Regions from separate parts of the Homo sapiens genome. Here region 1 is linked to region 2. Evidence: fine-mapped expression QTL. A gene starts in region 2. The other region holds a variant in brackets. All regions are shown on one strand. Distances are between the middles of the regions. Region 1 overlaps NISCH (nischarin). Region 2 holds the start of NISCH (nischarin).

Evidence for each region. PIP is the estimated chance that this variant, and not a neighbour inherited with it, causes the effect.
Region 1: its variant is the best candidate, but not a certain one, in a credible set for the expression of NISCH in ileum (GTEx, PIP 0.90).

The regions. Positions count from the first base shown.
Region 1 is chr3:52,476,595-52,488,446 of GRCh38, reverse strand. NISCH (nischarin) reads right to left here. Exons shown (of 21, transcript NM_007184.4): 8 at 11,848-11,852; 9 at 10,805-10,873; 10 at 10,165-10,350; 11 at 9,870-9,998; 12 at 8,585-8,698; 13 at 8,152-8,263; 14 at 3,810-3,934; 15 at 2,620-2,669; 16 at 1-1,251. Among named protein-coding and RNA genes, the nearest start is that of STAB1, 13 kb to the left of the region's middle. The variant G/C (reference allele first, on the strand shown) is at 6,170.
Region 2 is chr3:52,452,090-52,460,455 of GRCh38, reverse strand. NISCH (nischarin) reads right to left here and starts at 4,852. Exons shown (of 21, transcript NM_007184.4): 1 at 4,722-4,852; 2 at 2,530-2,613; 3 at 1,612-1,794. The coding sequence starts at 4,814. TNNC1 (troponin C1, slow skeletal and cardiac type) reads left to right here and starts at 6,415. Exons shown (of 6, transcript NM_003280.3): 1 at 6,415-6,464; 2 at 7,943-7,973; 3 at 8,204-8,350. The coding sequence starts at 6,441. RefSeq lists enhancers at 3,198-3,873, 7,553-8,366 and a silencer at 4,698-4,927.

The sequences.
Region 1 (11,852 bases), 26 kb before region 2:
AAGATGGCAGTGACAAAGCGGTACCCCACGAGCAGCTCTAGCACGTGGCCATCAGCAAAGGCGCCCCGAGGCTGGGTACAGCTGCGTGTGGGGTCCAGCAGCACGGTGGAGAGCGGCACACGGCTGAGCTTGAAGCTGTTGCGGTTGCGACAGTTGTGGGTGCCACGGTTGGGCATGGGGTTGAAGTCGGCCTTGATGACGTTGAGGTGCTGGGGCGTGAGCAACAGCCAGTAGGGGATGGCGGCGGACTTGACGGCCTCAGAGGGCGCGCAGCAGGAGCGCCGCACGGCTGAACAGAGTGTGCAGCTGGCCCACTCGATGTTGCCTGAGTAGTCCCCGGCGGCCGTCTGCACCATGCGCTTGTCACTGTAGACCAGGTAGACGGGGAAGCAGCCCTGGCTGCGCTCCTGGCAGCCGCCAGCCACCTTGTAGAAGGTGAGCAGCTGGCGCAGGAACTCCTGCAGGCTGGTGTGGCTGCCGTAGAGGATGGGGCTACACAGCATGGCCATGTGCTGGGGTGCAAAGCATGAGCGCAGGTCCGCGTGGAACTCGTGCAGGTTGGCGGCGTCCGAGATAATGAAGAGCGTGTTCTCACTGTGCCGTACCTTGAGCACCAGACACAGCTCCGGCATGAGGAAGCCAAACTCGGTGAGGTCGCCATGCGGGAAGCAAAAGACAAAGCGCAGGGAGGAGAGGATGTGCTGGCTGCTGCCCCGAGACTCCTGGTGCGGGATCTCGAAGACTGCGATGCCGAAGTCGGTGAGCACAAGGCAGGCGGCGAACTGGCGGATACTGCCCTGCACATGGATCAGGAAGCACCACAGCACCTTGAGGATGCGGATGTGCTCCAGCAGGAAGTCCTCGTCCGCGCCCAGGGCCCATTCCAGAGCCAGGCGCTCCTCCTCGGCCTCTTCATCCTCCTCTTCCTCCTCCTCTTCCTCCCCCTGGCCTCCTCCCTCCTCCTCCTCCACGTCTGGGGGCCCCATTTCAAAGTAGCGGTTCTCAGCCACGTCCTCCTCTTCTTCCTCCTCCTCATCCTCCTCCTCGCCCTGTTCACCCTGGCCCTCCTCCCGCTGGTTGGCAGCCTCGATCCAGGCAGGCAGCTGCCGCTCGATGGCCTGCCGGATCAGTGTGCTCAGGCGCTGGATGAAGTCCTGATTGGTGGCCGTGTAGCCAATGCAGGTGAAGGGCAGGAAGATGATCTGGCCAGACCCCGGCACCACCTGGACCTCCGGCTCGGCATGTTCTGGGCTGTGCAGGGAGAGGCCAGGTCAGTGGCATGCTGGGAGGGGCCCCTCCCACCTCCCACCTGCCACATCTGGAGCCCACTGCTACACCCTGACCCTGAGAAACCAACCCATGGGTCTCCCAAGCCTCCCACATGGCCAAGTCAGTTCCCAGGATGAGGGCCCTGGTGGGAGCCAGTGCTGCCTGCTGGAAGGCTGGGTCGCCAGTTTGGTCAGAGTCTATGCTTCTAGGGGCTTGGACCATAGGTGCCTGGCACAGCTATGCCCAGACCACACGAGTTCCCACAACAGAAGCACTCCCATGGACTTCTAAGTCATTCAGTTGCTGCCATAAGCCCCGGAGAGAAGGAACACTCCAGGGCATGAATCTACTTGTCACCCCTGGTGGCCTCCGGGGCAGGGAAGTGGGCTGGGGCAGGTCTTAGGACCTTCACACTTAAATTCCAGCTCTTCTTGGCCACCGCAGCCCTCACATGTAGAGTGGGAGTTAGTAAGCTTCTGTAAAGGGTCAGAGTACACATTTTGGGATTTATGGGCTACCATGTCCATACGATCTTCAGCAGCCCTTTAAGAATGTAACTGTCCAACATGGCGAAATCCTGTCCCTACTAAAAACAGAAAAATTAGCCAGGTGTGGTGGCGGGCACCTTGGGTGGCTGAGGCAGAAGAATCGCTTGAACCCGGGAGGCGGAGGTTGCAGCGAGCTGAGATCGGGCCACTGCACTCCAGCCTGGGTGACAAAGCAAGACTCAGTCTCAAAGAAAAAAAAAGTAACTGTTATTCTAGCCAGGCGCGGTGGCTCATGCCTGTAATTCCAGTACTTTAGGAGGCCGAGGTTGGTGGATCACTGGAGTTCAGGAGTTCGAGACCAGCTAGGCAACATGGTGAATCTCTGTCTCTACTAAAAATATAAAAAATTAGTTGGGCGTGGTGGCGTGCGCCTGTGGTCCGGGCTACTCAGAAGGCTGAGGCTGAGACAGGAAAATTGCATTAATCTGGGAGGCGGGGGTTGCAGTGAGCCAAGAACACGCCACTGCACTCCAGCCTGGGCGACAGAGCGAGACTCAGTCTCAAAAAAAGAAAAAAGAATGTAACTGTCATTCTTAGCTCCCAGGCTGTGGGCCACACACAGGCCTTGATTTGCCAACCCCTGGTGTAGGGCAACATGTGCTGAGCAGAGTTTAGGTATTAGAATTTGGAAACAGATTGAAAAGTCCATCTCATCTGTGTCTCTTTAGAGGAAGAAATAGTTCTATAGGCCTTCTGTGAACGGATTTTTAAAAAAACCTGACTGGCCACCCCTGGCCCACAGCAGTGTGTGTGCATAAGGCTGTGTGGCCAGGCCCAGGTCCCTTTCCAACCTCTTCCTTACCTTGCACCACCAACAGCTCCTGGCACGTCCCTTAAATCATCGGAAGCTGCCTGATGGAGAAAGAAACACAGTCAGTCCCCACCTACTGCAGCCAGCCCCAGCCATTTACTGGTTGCCAGACCCTGAGCTGGGCATTCTGCCCTCCATCACCGCCCTGAGGAGGCTCCCCATCCCCACGCTGTACCCTGGAGCCCACTCTGGGACCCTGGGGCCCACTCTGGGACCCAAGGGCAGAGACCCACTTGGTTATCCCACCAGCACACAGCAGGGCTGGGATTCCCACTCGCAACCTAGGGCCAGAGCCTCTCGCCACTCTCCAGGGATCCAGCATCTGACTGCTCCTTGTGCCACGCAAGGGTCCAGGTAGACAGTCTACAAATTTGGTCCGACCCTAACTGGCCAGCAGTGGACACAGCCCTGGCAAGTCCCTCCCAATGGTCTCTGTGCACTGGGGAATACCTAGGGCTTGGGAATCTCTTGCTGTGTGACCCTGGAAAGGGTGATGGCAGAATACTGTGGAGTACTGAGGACAGACAAGGACTCTGCAAACTGTCCCAGTGTCACAAGGCCATAACCTTGTGCTGCTGCAGAGATGGGGCTGGAGGGAGGCCCAGGCACCAAGCACATTTGCGAAGCACACAGCAAGCACCCTTGCTTTCCTCCTGTCTTTCCTCAGGACAAAGGAAGGGGCCCCAGAACTCTCAGTAACAACCACAGAGGAGGCGCCAGAGTGAGACTGTTTCCCAGACCACCAGGGTGACATGCGGAAAGGCGCCGAGTGGCTCCAGGGGTGCCAGGAAACAGAGAAGAAACCCAAACAAGCCCCTGCACGAGGGTCTTTTGAAATGCCTTCCCCAGGGAAGCCTGCTCACAGGGTCAAGGGCCACCCTCTCCACCTGCCCCCCTCGTGCCCTGGGCCCAGTGACAGAGAACTGCCTGTTCCCATCAACCAAGGTGGGTGGGGAAGGGAAGGAGGGAGGCTGAAAATAAACCCTTAACCACTGTGTTTGTCAGGAAGACACTCAACCAGAGACAGGTCCAAGAGAAAGACCGTGGCACAAAGCAGAGGACGCCAAACCCTGGAAGCATCTGCCTCAGCTCCAGCTAGGCCACTTCCTACTGCACACAACCCCAAGCAGAAGAGTCCACCCACAGATGTATGGTCCCCAGAAGCGGGAAGAGGGCATTACCTGTCCCGCAGGGATGGACTCCAAGGAATCAGAACATCCCTGGGCAATGGGCTGGTGCTCGGGAGTCAGACTGTCAGTGGACGAGAGGCTGCTGGCCAGGGCCTCCTCCTGAACGAACATGATTCCTGGAGAGACCAGGGCGGGTGGGCAGGCAGGCAGGGTGGGTGGGGCGGGGAGAGCGGCTGTTCAACAAGTGGGGCTGGGCCCCTCAGGCTACTGGCATGGCGGGGGTTAGCCAGATCCCAAAACCCAGCCACATGGATTATAGAAGAAAATGTTAAAACTGAAATCTCAAAATAACTCAAGAAAGAACAAATGACTGCTTATCTAATCTCAGGGCAGGGAGAAGCATTCTGAGAATAAATGCAATGGAAAAAAACTGAGATGTGACTACATAAAAATTAAACTTCCACAGACACATTTTTTAAAAACCAGGATAGATTAAAACCAGATGAAATGAGAAAAGTGTTTGCAATATTTGACAAGGATTTATATCGCTAGTCTGTAAAAAGTTCTTACAGATTACAAAAATGAGGGAAGGTTGGAAACCTCATTAACAGACTGCAAAGGACGTGAACAGACATTCCGCAGAAGAACGGCCAGCGGATAGAACATGAAAAGAATGCTCGCTCTCAGAAGTACACAAAGAAAGGCAAGCTGAAACAAGAGACAAGTGTTGCCTCTCAACTTCTGCCAAAGTCAGACTGACTGTGTGGCCTGGCCCTGACCTCGCTGGGCAGAGGCCGGCACAGGCATGCAAGCTGGCCCACCCATCCAGAGAAGAGTTTGGAGGTACATCCATCAAGAGCCTGAAATGTGTTCACTCCTGGAGCATTTTCCCAGACGGTGACTAGACATGACCCCGTCCCCTGATTTGTCATCTCTGCAGGACTCATAGATACACAGGGCACGGGACAATTCACCAGGGGGCCAGCCCTTGCAGGCCTTGGTATCCAGCAGGGCTGCTGAGTCCAGCCTGAGCCCACATCCACAGTCCCACTTACCACAGGACGTGCCCACTGACCTGCCCTGGGGCCACCTCCCACGGACAGCAGCACTCTGACCCACTGCGTCCCGTAAATGCACAGTGTTCCTAAACCCCGCTGAAGCTGTTTTATGAACGTAGCCTATCTGGACCTGTTACTCCACCTCAGATCACCTCTAGACCACTTGAAGGTAAAGCCTTTGTGAACATGTTCCTGACTGCCGCCAGCAGGGTGAACACTGGGCATCGGCCGCCAGTCTCACTGAGGCCTACAGGAGCCCTAGGCCTACCTCCACAGCCCAGCATCGCCACAGCCCAGTGAAATGACCCCGAGTCCTCTGAGCCCCACAGGTCGAGACCCCCGACCAGCTCAGCTGCTCCCCGGGACAGGACAACTCACACAGCCTGGGTCCTCTGCCCACAAGCGAGGCAGGCAGGTGGGCCCAAGCTCAAACGCCCCCACGAAGCGAAGCAGCAGGGGGTAGGCAGGCAGGAAGGATGGCAAGCACACAGCCATGCATGAAGCACCCTGATGGGCCACGCTGGGCACCTGCCCAGGCCGCTGCTCTCCTGCAATCCACCCTCTGCCTGCTAACGTTCAACTCCTATTCACCTTCGAGATTCACCTCAGACACCACCTCCACTGCAGACCTTCTCTGCTCTAGACAGTCTACAAAAGCCCCACACCATCCTACCCTGTTCTCCTCCAGCACATGGCTCATCCTCCCGCATGGCTCCAAGCTCCCCAGGGGCACAGTCTGGGTCATCTTGAACCCCCTACTAAGGATGTGGGAAAGGGCAGCCCTCATCGACCACCTCTGTGGAGCTCTGGGTAGTGCCAAGCGCCTCCCCAGCATTCGCTCATGCATGCCTCTCGTTATTTACCACATTTCATCAAATCTAAGATGCGGCAGGTGGCGCCATCTTGGTCCTAGCGGAAGGTGTCCACGGGTTTTCCACGACTCCATCTCGAATACCAGCTGGCTGACAGCGACTATGAGACGCCACTGACTGAAAGACGCACCTCAGTTTCAGAGAAGTCACAAGGTGGAAATGCGTGCCTCTTAGAATCAATGAAGTAGGGTGCGTCCACTTCACAGTTGAGAAAACAGCTTCAGAGGGGCTACAAGTTGCTTGAGGTCCCACAGCTAGGAAGCTGGCATGCGAACTCAGCTGACCGAGCCCTGGCTCCTAACCACCTCTCCACACAGCCTCCTCTCAGCCCCTGGGCCTGGCTGGACAATCAACTCTGGCGACCACCCCTATTGGTCACAATCATCCATGGCTCCGACAGCGCCTGCCACGACGGGAGGCTGGGTGTTGTCTGGACAGCGCCCCCTTCAGGCAGGCCCGAGTGCCAGTTCCTTCGCAAGCA[G/C]GCTCCCTTCTCGGGAATCAGGCTGGAAGCAACAGGCATGGGTCAGCAAAGCTGCTCCCACGCGCTAAAAAACCCTGTCCATCCAGGCAAGACCCAGGAACACGCGGCTGAAAAAACACACGGGGAGGCCTCCAAATCAGTGAGAAAAAGACCAACACCTTTTGCCACTACCTCCCACAAGCCCTGTTTGGACCAAGGAAATGTGGACAGGGACAGGGACAGTCTATCTGCTCCCGTCCTGGACCGTGGCCTGTACAAACAAGTGGTCAGAAAGGGCACTCAGCGGATAGAGCGGAGACATCAGGAGAGTCCTTAGGGGTCCGATCTTTGCTGTTTCTCACCAAAAGGAAAGAGAGGTGCACACAAAGACATCCACTGCAGTTTTATTTAAGAGGTGCAAATCTGGAGGCCATGTCCAGAAGTCCAGCGATGGCGGGGACAGACTGCAGAGTGCCCCTCTGCAGAGTGTCCCCAGGGCACAAGGGGAGTGAGGAGGGGGCTGAGCTGGTGCAGAGGCTTCTCCGACAATGTGGGGGGCTGCCTGCAGCTGCAGCCTGGGGACATGGTGCATCCCCACCCATCCAGGGCCTGCTCTTCACTGGCTCCTGCTCTACCTGCCCACTCACTCACTCACTGATCAACAGATGCTGGCAGAAATGGCTGTGTCCCTGGCCTTGAGAAGCAGATGCAGCTCCCTGTCCCCAGAGGCCTACAGTCATATGGTACCTCCACAGGCTCGCTTGGCTGCGCTACAGGAGGCAGCGTCAGGGAAGCTTTCTCACCGTGATATAACCTCCCTGGCTTTTATGTAATAAAATGCAACCAGAAATCCTTAGTCAAGAGTCTGACAGAAGCAAAATGGGCAATCATCCTGGCACCTAACCCCATCGCTCCACGCTCAGGAATTCTCTTCCACATCTCACAGGTGTGACCTCAGTGTGCTGCTCTGCGTTGGGCCTTTTGCCTTAACTTGAATGCTTCTCCCCTCTTCCTGCCCAGTCTTCCTGTCCCTGCTGGGAGGGCTGCTGAGCATTCTGCACCACAGCCGACTCTCCCTCTCATCCTCCGATGTTGCAGTTGCAGCCCGTGTTTTGGCAGTGGTGAGCATTTCACCTCCCCTTCCCGGTATCTTATCCCTCTAAGAGAAAATCCCCACCAGTGGGGTTACCAGGTCAAGGGGTGGGAATGTTTTTCTGGCTCTTAAAACATCGGGTTGAACTGTTTTCCCAAGACCTCACACCAAGTTCTGCGTCTCCAGGAGCCCGGGCAGGCGGCGTCCTTTCCTGCGTGTCCCGAGCCTCGGCTCCACTCGGGACGGCACACCCTCCCCTCTTCCGTGGGGGCCGGGCCAGCAGACACGCTCATGAGACCTGCTTCACTCACTCATCTCCGAGGATGCCTGGGTTCAGAGGTGAAAGCCCTTTGAAAACGCTAAGATAGTGGGCAGACGAATGGGCCTGGTCTTCCATGGGTCCACAGGGACAGAGATGGCCCATCTTGGCCCCACAAACATGGTGTTCTGGGGCTGGGTCACCCCACAGAGATGAGGCAGTGATAAAAGCAAGCTTTTCCCTGCACAGGGATTCGGGCTCCAGACAGTAAAGTCACAAGCCCGGCTTCCTGTAACCAGGAGCCAACCTGCTTGTGCTGCCGGTGAGGGAATGGGTCCCATGAGCCAACAGCCCCGAGCCTGTTCAGAGGGCAGCCTCAGGGCCTGTCAGACACCCTGCGGTCTCCTAGAGGAGCTGGATGTGGGCATCAGAGCAATTGGGAGTCCTCACCAAGCAAGCAACAGCTGGCATCAGGCCAGGCACCCCTGCCATGTGTCCCCCCGCGAGGACCAGCCTGCAGAAGGCACTGCCCTCCCTGTGTCTGACCCTGTTGGAAGCAGGTGCTGGCACCTCTCCCCCAACCCCAGCCCAGCCAGGGGGCCCAGGCAGGGCTGTGTGGCTCCACTAGAAGCAAGATACATACACGATTACCTTGGTTAGAGAGGATGGGCTGGGGCAGGGAGGCAGATGCGGGAGCCACAGTGGGAGGGGAGCTGCTGGGTCTGATGCAGGGGGCAGCTGAGAGCCGGGAGTCTTCACCACCCTGAGGACGAGTGCTTGAGTCAGCCCGGGAGAGAAGAGGAAGCACAGAGCTCCCCAAGGCCAGGGGTGTGAGGAGGGAGCGCAACGGTTCCCACCAACTGGGTGGTAAAGATGGTCTCATCATATCCTTAGAGCAGGAACTACCACTGTCCCCACCCCACAGAGAACAGAGAGGCCGCGACTTGCCCGAGGTCATGCAGCCAGGGAGGGGCGCAGCTGGGACTCGGCAGCCCTGAGCAGTCCCATGGCCCAAGCCCCCCAAACTGGCTCCTATCCCGGCTGGCTCTGCACCACTGCCCTCCCACCTGCCACACAAACCCACCTTCTTCTCTGGGTTGCTCAGTTTGGACTTGACCTCCTTGGCTTTCTGAATTGCTTTCAGCACTTCCACAGTGTCCAGCTCCTTCTCTGTGGTCACTGTGTCATCCAGACAGACCTAGAGCATCCAGAAAGTGGCTATCAGCATGGGGACTGGTGATGGCTATCAGCATGGGGACTGGTGATGGCTATCAGCATGGGGACTGGTGAGCATGGCAGGAGGATGGTAGGGCTCTGCTGAGGAGGAGGCGTGAGCACCTGCTGTGGGCCAGGCCACGTGAGGACACCATAGGCTGAGGGAGGCTCAGCCTGCTCAGAGGCGGCTCTTCACTACTCATGGAAGTGACCTGGGAATGCCTTGGAGGGGTCCAGGGAGGTCTCACATCTGTCTCTGGAGTCCCTCACCAAGAACAGGAGGCAGCAAGCTCTTGGGCAGCTGGGACTAGGGTAAGGGGGCAACTTGAACTAAGCCCCCAGTTAGAGGTGGGAGGCAGACTCTCAAAAGAGCGATGGGAGAGCCTCCTGGGTAGGGGAACCAGCGGCAGGAGAGGGCAGGGCCCCCGCCTGCAAATGTGGGAGGGAGTGGTGGCTGGCAGGCAGTGGGGGGTTGGGTAGGGTGGTTGAATGAGGGAAGGTCCCAAGGGCCTGGACAGGAGCTGACACTCTGTGGCCTGGGAGCTTCCCAAAGTCTGCAGCCCAGGAGGGGAGGAGATGGCATCTCATGGTCTTGTGACTGTGTGGAGGAAGGGGCACTTGCGGCCACAAAGAGGGAGGTGGGACACAAATAGACTTCCAGGTATTTTCTGACCTGGGATTTTGGGAGAACAGAAGGTCCAAGGACCAATCAGAGCATCACGGGGACTGCTCCAGGCCCAGGCGATGGGTGAACCTGGTTAAGGGTGTCTGGTCAGCATCGTGGCAGGTGCACAGACACCGCGAGGGGCAGCAGACACCAGGCTGGGCTACACTGGCAAAGGCAAACCCTTTGGGTTTACAGTCAGGCACTATGGCCACAGGTTGTCCAGGAGATATGAATATTTTAAGGATCTTATTTCTGACCCTTTCCTAGAATAAACAATGTTATCCCAGACAGTAGGGGCAGGAGATGCAAGGGAGCTTTTTCCTGGGGAGATAGTGGACTTCCCAGAACTGAAAAGCCCCTAAGGGACAGGACCTCTTTCTGAAGCAGGCAAGGGTAGAACAATGGACATATATCCCCCTACCGCCCATGCAGACTTGACTGCATCCCGAAGGTCTCCCTGGGCTCTTCTGACTGTGCTGGGGCTCACCTCTGAGGCCCTCTCTCCGAACTGAGCCAGCACCTTGGTCCGGTAGTCGGGGATGATGCTCAGAGGGTTGTTCAGCAGAGACACGTGCTCCAGACACGGGAGGCTGCCTATGCTCCGGACCTCCTCCATCTGCAAGGTATGAGTTCCATCCCCTTTGGTCCCTTCTCTTAACACTTCAGCAACACGCCAACACGTTTCATGGTCTCTTTTAAATGAAAGGAATCTTAACATTCTTCTTTAACATGATACACACCAAGGCACAGAAATCCCAAAACTGTGAGGTCCTTGGGCTCACCTGTTCGATCCTGTTGTCCCGGAGATCCAGGTTGACCAGTGAGTAGAGCTTGTGCAGGCCACTCAGACTCTCTAGGAGGTTGCCTGCCAGGTTTAAGGTCTTGATGTTCCCCAGCTTGGTGTGAAGCCCTTCCAAGGAGGAGAGCTTGTTGTAGGACAGGTCCAGATGCACAAGGTTATACAGGTGCTGCAGCGGCGTGGAGAACAGCGTAAAGTGGCTCAGGTCAAGTCTCCAAAGATAGGGGCCTGACACTAATGGCAGGATGGGCCTTCCAACCCAAACTACCCAGTTCTGCAAGTCACTCTGACAGTTATTTTAGGAAGGGAAGTCCCTCTTCTCTGCCGCACATGCCACAGCACAGTGGCACCCCTGCAGACAGTTGGGGTGGGCGTTGAAAACATGGCTGTCCACCTTCAGGACGGAGGTGCATCATCATGCCTGGTTTGTATTTACTCATGCTTCCTAATTCTTTGGAACTAGAGCAACAATCACTCAGTGCATTGCTGGGATCCTAAAGCGAAGACAGCAACCCCTGCCCTTACAACCCCTGGCCAATTCCCAAGGCTGCGTCAGTCTCCTGAAATCTCAGGGCGGGGCCTTGGGAGTGTGTGCGGGCAGCACTGGTCTCCAAAGGCACTACCTGCAGATTGTCCACAACCAGCAATCCATTGTGACTCAGGTCCAGGAACTCAATCTTTGGGATCAGTTTCTTGTGAAAGAAAAGAACACCCGATGTTACTGTAGGGGGCTGGACCCCAAACACGGTCCCCGACACAGTGGACGGGCACCCCAGGACGCTTCCTCCCGACCATGGACTCCCACGGGCCGTCCCTGCAGGACCACTGGTGGGACATCTCCCGCTGCCCAGCCAGTAGCACATCCAAAGGCACACACAGGGCCCCCAGTGCTGGGCACTACTCAGTTTTCATGGAACACTTGGCTTGTGAAAATGACACACAGCAAGGTCCCAGACAGAGAAGAGAGTCTGTTCTTCTTCAACCCTGCCCACACTCCCTGAGCAGCGCAAACACGGGAACGACACTCTTACTGCCCAAATGCCCTCTGGGTGTCATTCTTTCATGGGCACATCTGTCATCTAAGGAGTGATTTTTCTGCTCCACTCTTTGGAGCAAATGTCATCATTTAGTGTGTTATAGTTTACCAAATTTACATGAAATTATTATGTTTTATTTGGTTCTAAGTACTACCTCACCAATTTTAAATGATCCCATTTTTTTTTCTTCTTTTGAGACGGAGTCTCACTCTGTCGCCCAGGCTGGAATGCAGTGGCCCTATCTCAGCTCACTGCAACATCCGCCTCCCGGGTTCAAGCGATTCTCCTGCCTAAGCCTCCCAAAGTAGCTGGGATTACAGGTGTGCACCACCACACCCAGCTAATTTTTGTATTTTTAGTAGAGATGGGGTTTCACCACATTGGTCAGGCTGGTCTCGAACTCCTGACCTCAAGTGATCCTCCCGCCTCGGCCTCCCAAAGTGCTGGGATTACAGGTGTGACCCACCACGCCCAGCCCCCATTTTGTAATTAACTTAAAATGGCAGGCAATGCACAGAGCACTAGATATAGGTTTTCCGTGGTCCTTCCTAAAAAAGCTGAGTTAAATACTCAAACTCAGGGTTTGGTGGGGCCAGAGAAACCCCTGGCACCTGCTGCTGAGAGCATACCACAG
Region 2 (8,366 bases):
TCCTCCAGCCTGAGCAATGGAGTGAGACCCTGTCTCAAAAAAAAAAAAAAAAAAATAGTACAGCCATACAGTTGGATACTGCTTAAGAAAGTTGCATTTTTTTTGAGACAGTGTCTGCTGGGAAGACTGGTGTGCTGCTGGGATAATGATGGTGGAGCTGCAGATTTCTTTTTTGTTTTATTTTCCCAAAGAGCTGGGATCACAGGCATGAGCCACTGTGCTCAGCCTGGCTGTACCCTTTGATTTTTTTTTTTTTTTTTTTTTTTTTTGAGATGAAGTCTTACTCTCACTCTGTTGCCCAGGCTGGAGTGCAGTGACATGATCTCGACTTACTGCAACCTCTGCTTCTTGGGTTCAAGCGATTCTCCTGCCTCAGCCTCCCAAATAGCTGGGATTACAGGCATCTGCCACCATACCCAGCTAATTTTTGTATTCTTAGTAGAGACAGGGTTTCACCATGTTAGCCAGGATGGTCTTGAACTCCTGACCTCAAGTGATCTGCCCACCTCAGCCTCTCAAAGTGCTGGGATTACAGGCATGAGCCACTGCACCTGGCCTGATTTTTTTTTTTTAACCTCTTCTACTAGACTTTAGGGTTGTCCTTACTATTTTGTTACAATCCTGGAATGACTACCTTTGTTCATATATCCTTTTTGCGGCTGCCTGATTTTTCCTTAGAAGAAATTCTCATAAATAGAACTGCTATTTAATATTGTGGTTTTGGCCAGGTGCGGTGGCACACGCCTGTAATCCCAGCACTTTGGGAGGCTGAGGCAGGCAGATCACTTGAGGTCAGGAGTTCCAGACCAGTCTGGCCAACATGGTGAAACCCCATCTCTACTAAAAATACAAAAATTAGCTGGGTGTGGTGGTGCAAGTCTGTAGTCCCAGCTACTCGGGAGGCTGAGGCAGGAGAATTGCTTGAACCCAAGAGGCGGAGGTTGTAGTGAGCCGAGATCGCACCACTGCACTCCAGCCTAGGTGACAGAGCAAGACTCCGTCTCAAAAGCACAAATATTGTGGTTTCACACTGCCTAAGTGCCCTTCTTAAAGTCTGACAACGCATTCTGTCACCGGCAACCTATGAAAGTTGTTCCTCTTTCAAGGACGGAGTACAGAGCTGTTCTATGACACACTCTCCCATCACAGGAAGGTGTCCACCCTCAACCTTAGCACCCTGGCAGCGCGGACCCTGATGACACGCCCCAAGATGGTGATATTCCACCATCACAGACTAATCCCTTAATTAGTTTTGGGCTATGCACCAACAACTCAACAATAGTCTATCCCAGGTGTCAGCTATTTCTAATCCAGCCTCATCCATCTGGATGGAAACCTAGCTTAAACACCCACAGGCCATTTTTGCTAAACAAAATGCCTTGTGGTGGAGGAAAGCATCTCTGTGGCCACATTTAGTCTAATTTACGGCAAATCTGTCAACTAACATGCTTCTGGCCACAATGCATTCCTAACCAGGGTGACGTTCCTCCATCTTCTAACCTAGGGTCAAACCCCAGCCCACCTCAAAGCTGAGGTCTCCCCTGGTTTGCTGCCTCAAGTTTGGCAGTTGTGGGTTTGCAGGCACAGGTGAAAACCCGATGAGGAACTTACATAGAAGTGAAAATGCAAGAAGTGGGCCAGTACTCTGGGGGTCACGCCAGGGAAGGCAGCCAGGAGCTTCTGGAGGTAGACCTCCAGATCCTTCTCCCTCTTCTCCACCAAGCTTCTTGAGTTTTTCCCAATTATCTTTTTGGGCGGAAGCAGATTTTTATCAATCTTTCTCTCTGCAACGAGCTGTAAAAAAACATAAGCACATCAACCACAGACTAAGAGGCTCTGTGCCTATGTAAGACCAAGGCAAGAAGCTTGAGGGCAGGCGCTTGTCAGCACTTGCACAGCCCCTCCCTGCAGTAGTACCAAAATCAGTGACCAAACTAGTGCACCTGGGATTTGGCCTCTTTAAATCCAATTAGCATTAGAAATACCAATACAATTCTAGACAAGGAATTCCATCTGGAGACTTTAGAGACATTCAGAAAAGTAACACCTTTTGCCCCTAAAATTGCCATCTTTTCCAAGCCAGAGTAAAAACCAATCAGGGCAGCGGTGTGTCTTTAAAACAGTTATGCTGCAAATGACCCAGAGAAAGACAGCATCTCCAAAAGCAAAAAAAAGAGATGGAATCACAGCCAGATATTAAAGTAAGGCTTTGGAATAGCTATCGCTAGATCAAACAAGTTCAAACCTGTCCCCTTCCCAGGAAACTGTCTGAGCATCTCATACCCAAGCTAGGACTGGAAATATTAAAACTGAAATTCAAATATGCTCCTTGCAGAGTGGCTCATGCTAGAGCTGAAGGCTAGCATTTACATGCTATATTAATGAACGCAGTTATATTAACAAAGTGGTTTATTAAAGAACTATAGAGATGGAACCTGTTTTGCCCTAAAACTAATATGTGGCACAATGGAAAGTTGGCCTACGGGTCCCCCAGCCCTGAGATACGTGCTCCCAGCTCTTAACAGTTACCTTTTCATGCAGGTCATGGAAGTCGCTGTAGCGGTGCTTTACTGTCCACTCATGGCTGCCATCAGTGACCTGGATGATGTAAACCTAAAAGGGGAAACCAACAGCCCTTGTGGCAAGGGAGCCCAGCAACAAGGAGTCTCCTCCCCCAGCAGCAAAAGCTGCAATTATCTTTCCCAATTATCTTTTATCAGTCTTTCTCTCTGCAACTCAGACCCACCCCAAGGCCAAAGTCAGGCTGCCCTTGCCCACCAGCCTCTGCACCTGACCCTTGCTGACCAGCAGGGCCCCTCTCAGCTTCCTCCATGGCCCAAGCACTAGGGCTGGGAGGCACATGAGACAAGCATGTGGCTCCATCCATCAGTAAGGAATGAAAAAGGTGATTACCACAAGTCACCTCTTTAGTTTTTTACCTCCTGCCTCTAGGTAACTCAAAACCCAACCGGAGCTGCAGGCAAGGCCATTTCTTCCAAGGGAGGCAGAGCAGGGCCAGTTCTAGCCTGAGCATCTTCTCTGTTGTACTTCTTTCCAGGTGCCCTGACTACCTCCTGGAAGCAAGTCATTTTCCAACCCTTTCAACTGGTTCATGGCTGTGATTTCTGCTGCTGAGCCAGGAATCAAGGCACAAGCAGCTGATGTGGGGAGGGAGTGGTAGCAACTAAGCTCTATCAGGAGGCAATATGGCCTAGAGGTTAAGGAAGGCCTGGGTTAAAAACCTGGTTCTGCCATTTCCTGGCTGCAGCTTATGTGTCACTTATATAAGTAACTTGGAGCCTAAGTTCTCTCTGAGCCTTAGTTCCTCCATCTTAGAATCAAGGACCAAGTAAGGCAATGCATGTAAAATGCTTTGTACATGGGCCTGACCCATGGCAAGTGTTCAAAAGGTAGGTGTGTTAATAATGTCCAACTCGGCACACCCGGAGACAGAGGATGGTAGGGTCCAAACTAGATCACCACCTCCCCCGACATACATGCAGAGGAGGGGCGCAGTCCAGAATAGGGTGAGCTTTTTGAAGATGGCCCTCTGGCTGAATGTGCCCATAGCTGATGGCCAGTCAGCCATCAGCTTAGAGACCTCACCCGCCTCCTGCACCTAGTTTCCCCCTCCTCTCTGCAGCATGGAGCTGAAGCCTCCTCCAGCCCTGAGGAGCAGCCATTTCTCCAGGCTGGCCTGTTGCTTCAAGATCCACCCCTCTCCTCTTCCCATCCTGCCTGATTCCTTCCCCTTGCCTTCAGGAAAGGAGAAAAGAGCCAGAAGAATGGCCCTCAGAGCGGAAGGTTAGGATGAGGGCCAGGGAGGGGAGGTGCAGGCAGGCCCAAGGCCCCCACCCACTCCCTACCCTGCGGGAACAAAGGGGAGGAGGCAGGGAGGTGCTCTATGCCTAGTCCAGGGCCGGTTTTTGCCAGGCAGCCCACCAGGCTCACAGGCCTGGCATCCAACCCCGTCAAAGTCGGGAACTACCCGCTATTTGTCCTCTGTCTCCCCCATAGCTTAGAAGTGTGTGTGGGCAGCTTGTTGCCCCATCTCGCTCCCACAGCCCAAAGTCACGAAGATTCCTAAGGCTTATAGGGCCTGCGCTTTAGCACTGAGACCACCCCCATTTCTCCATAGATGGGCTCCACCCCTCCTCCGGTCTTGTCTCCGCCCGACCCCCAAGGCATCTGCTCCCCAGGTCTCTCCTGCACTTCTCAGAGAAAATCTCAACCACCACCTCAGGCTCCCCAGATCAGGGTCCTGACGCCTTCTCTTTCTTCAAGGCCTGCGAAGCCTGACCCTTTTCCCTGATTCCATCCATCAGAGACCCTCTCCCCATCGCCTTCCTCCTGGACCCCTGTAACGGTCTTCCAGGCCGGGGCCCCTCCAGTCCTAGAGGATCTAGAGGGGTTCCGCCTCATCTAGACACCCCCCTCCCCAAGCCCCCTTTATCCCCAGATGCCGCCCCCAACCCGAGCCTCCCTTTCTGATCGCGTACCCTTTTCCAAACCGCCTCCCCGGGCCCCGAGCAACCCTTCTCCCGGACCTGCGGGGCCCAGATCCCTTTCCTAGATCCCCCGTCCCAGCCCCCTCCTCGCAATCGCAGACCCTTCTACCCGCTCCTCGGGGCTGCAGATCCCGGACCCCTCCCCAAGCCCCCGAGTCGGACTCCCGGTTCCAGCCACCACCCCCGCTTCGGGTGCCCGCGCCCCCAACACACCGTATAAGTGTCCACAAGCTCCGAGCCCACGACGCGCGCTTCCTTGGCCGGCTCGGCTTCCCGCTCGGGCCCGAAGGTGCGCGCGGTCGCCATGTTCGGGTCTCCGCCGCCACCGCCGCCCGGCGCAGACTAGCAGCAGCAGGGGGCGGGGTCAACGTCCCACCGCCCCCCGGCCCCCGCCGCCCGTCGCCCCCGCCGCGCGCTGCGCCGCCATCTTGGCCCCGCCTTCTTCCTGCGCCCTCGCCCCGCCCCCGCGCGTGACTGACAGGGGCCACTCAGGGCGCGCGTGCGAGGTGCTCGCTTGCGTAATCTACCTGCGTGGCGCCGCCGGCGGTACCCTGCACAGCCTGCTAGAAACTGAGACCCCGGGTGGTGACAGCTCTGGGCATCGCCCCTGGGTCCTCGGGAAGAGGGGACAGAAGGTCCCGAGTCTCCCAGGCCACACGAAGCAAGTCACTGCTCTTCCTGGCCTCAGTTTACTCCTCCTGATAAAGGAGGCCATAATAGTGCCTCACCTGGCTGTTGGGCTCTTTCTCTTTAGGGCAAGGCAGGTTGGAGGGGAAAATAGGACCTGTGCTTACCGCCGGAGCAGGGCGAGAGTGATTCTGGGCCAGTTCTGAACCTCTCTGAGATTCGGAGATCTCTTGTCAGTGGGGCTTCTGGACAACTGAGTGGGTTGATTGATGCGCGGCCCAGCACGCAGTAGTGCTCGAGGCAGGGAGCGTGTTTATCAAGAGGGATAAACTTGATACGAACTCTGTACGAAGGAAGGTGTAGGTGGATGGAGGGGTGTGTGCTGCCACTGAGCACAAGAACCCCACGGGGTGGCCTGCCAAAGTTCAAAACGAGGGAGACAGGTTGATCTGGACCCAGGAACTACAGTGCTGAATCCTAAACCGGGGAAAGATGAGACCTAGAAGAGGGAGGTGGTAACCTAATTGGAGGGTGAGGAGGGAAAGAGCCTGCCACAGATGGGGCATCTATAGGGGTGCTGTTGAATAACTGAGAGCAGCTGACTTAAGCCCGAAGTGGGTACTTCTCCCTGGGCAGATGGGAGGTCTGGGACAGGCTCCTCTGGCAGAAGGGCTCCTGGCCACCCTGTCCTAAGGTGGGTCAGTCACTTCCTCCTTCACCAGTTCCACAGCATCTTACTATGAGCTTGGCATTCGAGGCTTCTCTTGGCAGGGCCCTGCACTCCTAGCCTCTCCTTGCACATTGCACCCCCATTCCAGAGAGGTTTAGTTAAAGGCGGGGGTTACCAAGTCAGTCAGATCTTGGGCAAGTCACCACTCCTCCAGAGCCTCAGTTTCCTTATCTGGAAAGTGGAGGTCATGGCAACCCGCCAACCTGGTTGGATGGGAGCCTGAGCTGTTGTGTTGCACCTTGCCTGGGGCCCACGACTTTGTAGCTCCTGTCCTGCACTGGGCTTATGTTTTCATTCATTCCAGAAACCTTTTCAGAGAGTCCCTTTGGGGAGTGTGGGGGACAGGAGGGAAAGAAACCTGGTCCTTGTAGCCGTTCGTCTGCTCCCTGCCCTGGGCAGAGGACGTGGGGACTCAGGCCAGCCTGAGATCACTGGGACCAGAGGAGGGGCTGGAGGATACTACACGCAGGGGTGGGCTGGGCTGGGCTGGGCTGGGCCAGGAATGCAGCGGGGCAGGGCTATTTAAGTCAAGGGCCGGCTGGCAACCCCAGCAAGCTGTCCTGTGAGCCGCCAGCATGGATGACATCTACAAGGCTGCGGTGAGGGACAGGGCTGGGTAGGGCTGGGGTGGGCAGGCCCACTGGGGGCTCACTCAGCTGAGAGTGCGGGGTTAGTAGCCCCAGGGAAGTGGTGGGGACCAAGGAGAAGGCCTACGTGCCTTCAACCCAGGCCCTCACAGGGACAGTGATTCTGGTGTTTGAGGATGCAGAAGGGGTAGGGGGTTCCGGGTCTGAAGGGTGGTGGAGGAGGTTGCAGCTTTCAGCATCGTGTCTCACTCTCTGTTTCCAAGTGTCTGTGGTCTGTGGCACTGTCGCTCAGCCACATGTCTCTGCATTTGTCTCTGGACGTTTTTGCCTTTCTCTTTTCATCTCTTCCTCCTGAGCTGTCTGAGTCCCCATTACTGTCTCCCTGTCCCCAACCCCCATTTCTGCCCCTCACATTCTGCTTCTCACATGCTCAAAATCTGCCACCCCACTCCAGCCCCTTGGCGGGCCGAAGATGCTTTGGAGGGTGGAGGGTGTGAGAGGAGGGGTCTGTAGAGCCTGAGTCCTGGGCTGGAGATGGGGCTTTGAAGTTTGAGGCAGGGAAGTTCTGGACATGAGGGAGAACCAAGGAAGAAGGAACAGAGAACTGGGGCCCCAGCTCCCATCATGCCTGGCAGGCTCAGGGCTCAGTGGCTTAGCTAGGGGTGAGAGCGAGGGAATGAGGGCTGGAGAGTGGTCACCCCAAGCCCCTGCAACCTCCTGGGTCACTGAGGGTCTTCAGATGCTATTCTATCCTGGGTGGTGGTGACCTCCCCCAACCCCAGAGCAAGGACATCCTGGCATGGCCAGCTGTCCCCAGGGGAACCCCTCCCTCAGCCTCCCTCACTCCTGGGCAGGGAAGTGCTATAGCCAGCTCTGGGGGCACGCCTGCTTATCCTGTGGGAGTCCATGGAGCCGGGGTTGGGACAGCCCTCCACCCAGTGCCCATACAAGGCCTGGCGGAGTTGGGGACTAATTTTGGCTTCTGAGGCGGCACTAGCAGGCCAGGGGGCCAGATAACGCTGCCCCACCCCCTGCATGCCAAAGTCCCCAGAACAATCACCAGGTTTAACTTTGTTCCTCGTTAAAAATAGCCCAGTGGCCACCCTGGTCAGGTTACCGTGGGTGGCTTGCCTGCCTCCACACTGGTTTTATTATCCCAACTTGAGGGACAGCTGTCCTTCGGGCCACCCAGCTTGAGTTTCATCAGGGGCCGAAAGGGCATTGAGTGGTCACTGACTATTGTTACTGAGGGTCACCTTGGTCCTGAAGGGGGTGCCCACCTGTCACCCTGGCCCTGAGCCCAGTCGCAGTGAGGCCAGCTGGGTCACGTCAGGGCTTTGGGGGCAGGGAGGGAGGACTGAGACCTCCACTCTGTGGCCTGGAAATAGCCTGCCTCCTCCAGCTCCAGCCTTCTCACCTGTGGAATGGGTTGGTTTCCTCAGCAGCAGCTATACCTGAGTCTGAGCCTTGAGATTCCCTTTCCTTTCTAGGTAGAGCAGCTGACAGAAGAGCAGAAAAATGGTGAGAATCCCTATCACACATGTGGGAGACCAGCGGGTCCAGGCTGGCATGGGGACCCCTTATCAGAAGAGGACCCCAGGCCAGAGACCAGAGGCTTGGTCCCTCTTGCTCTGCCCTCAGAGAGGTCTCCGAGGGAGGTGGGCAGGTTGGCAGGTGGCCCCAGGGTTCTGGCCCTCCGTGGTCCTGGCTGCTGAGCCCTGACTACTGTGCCCCCCAACCCCTGAACACAGAGTTCAAGGCAGCCTTCGACATCTTCGTGCTGGGCGCTGAGGATGGCTGCATCAGCACCAAGGAGCTGGGCAAGGTGATGAGGATGCTGGGCCAGAACCCCACCCCTGAGGAGCTGCAGGAGATGATCGATGAGGTGGACGAGGACGGTGAGCCCCCTCCTCC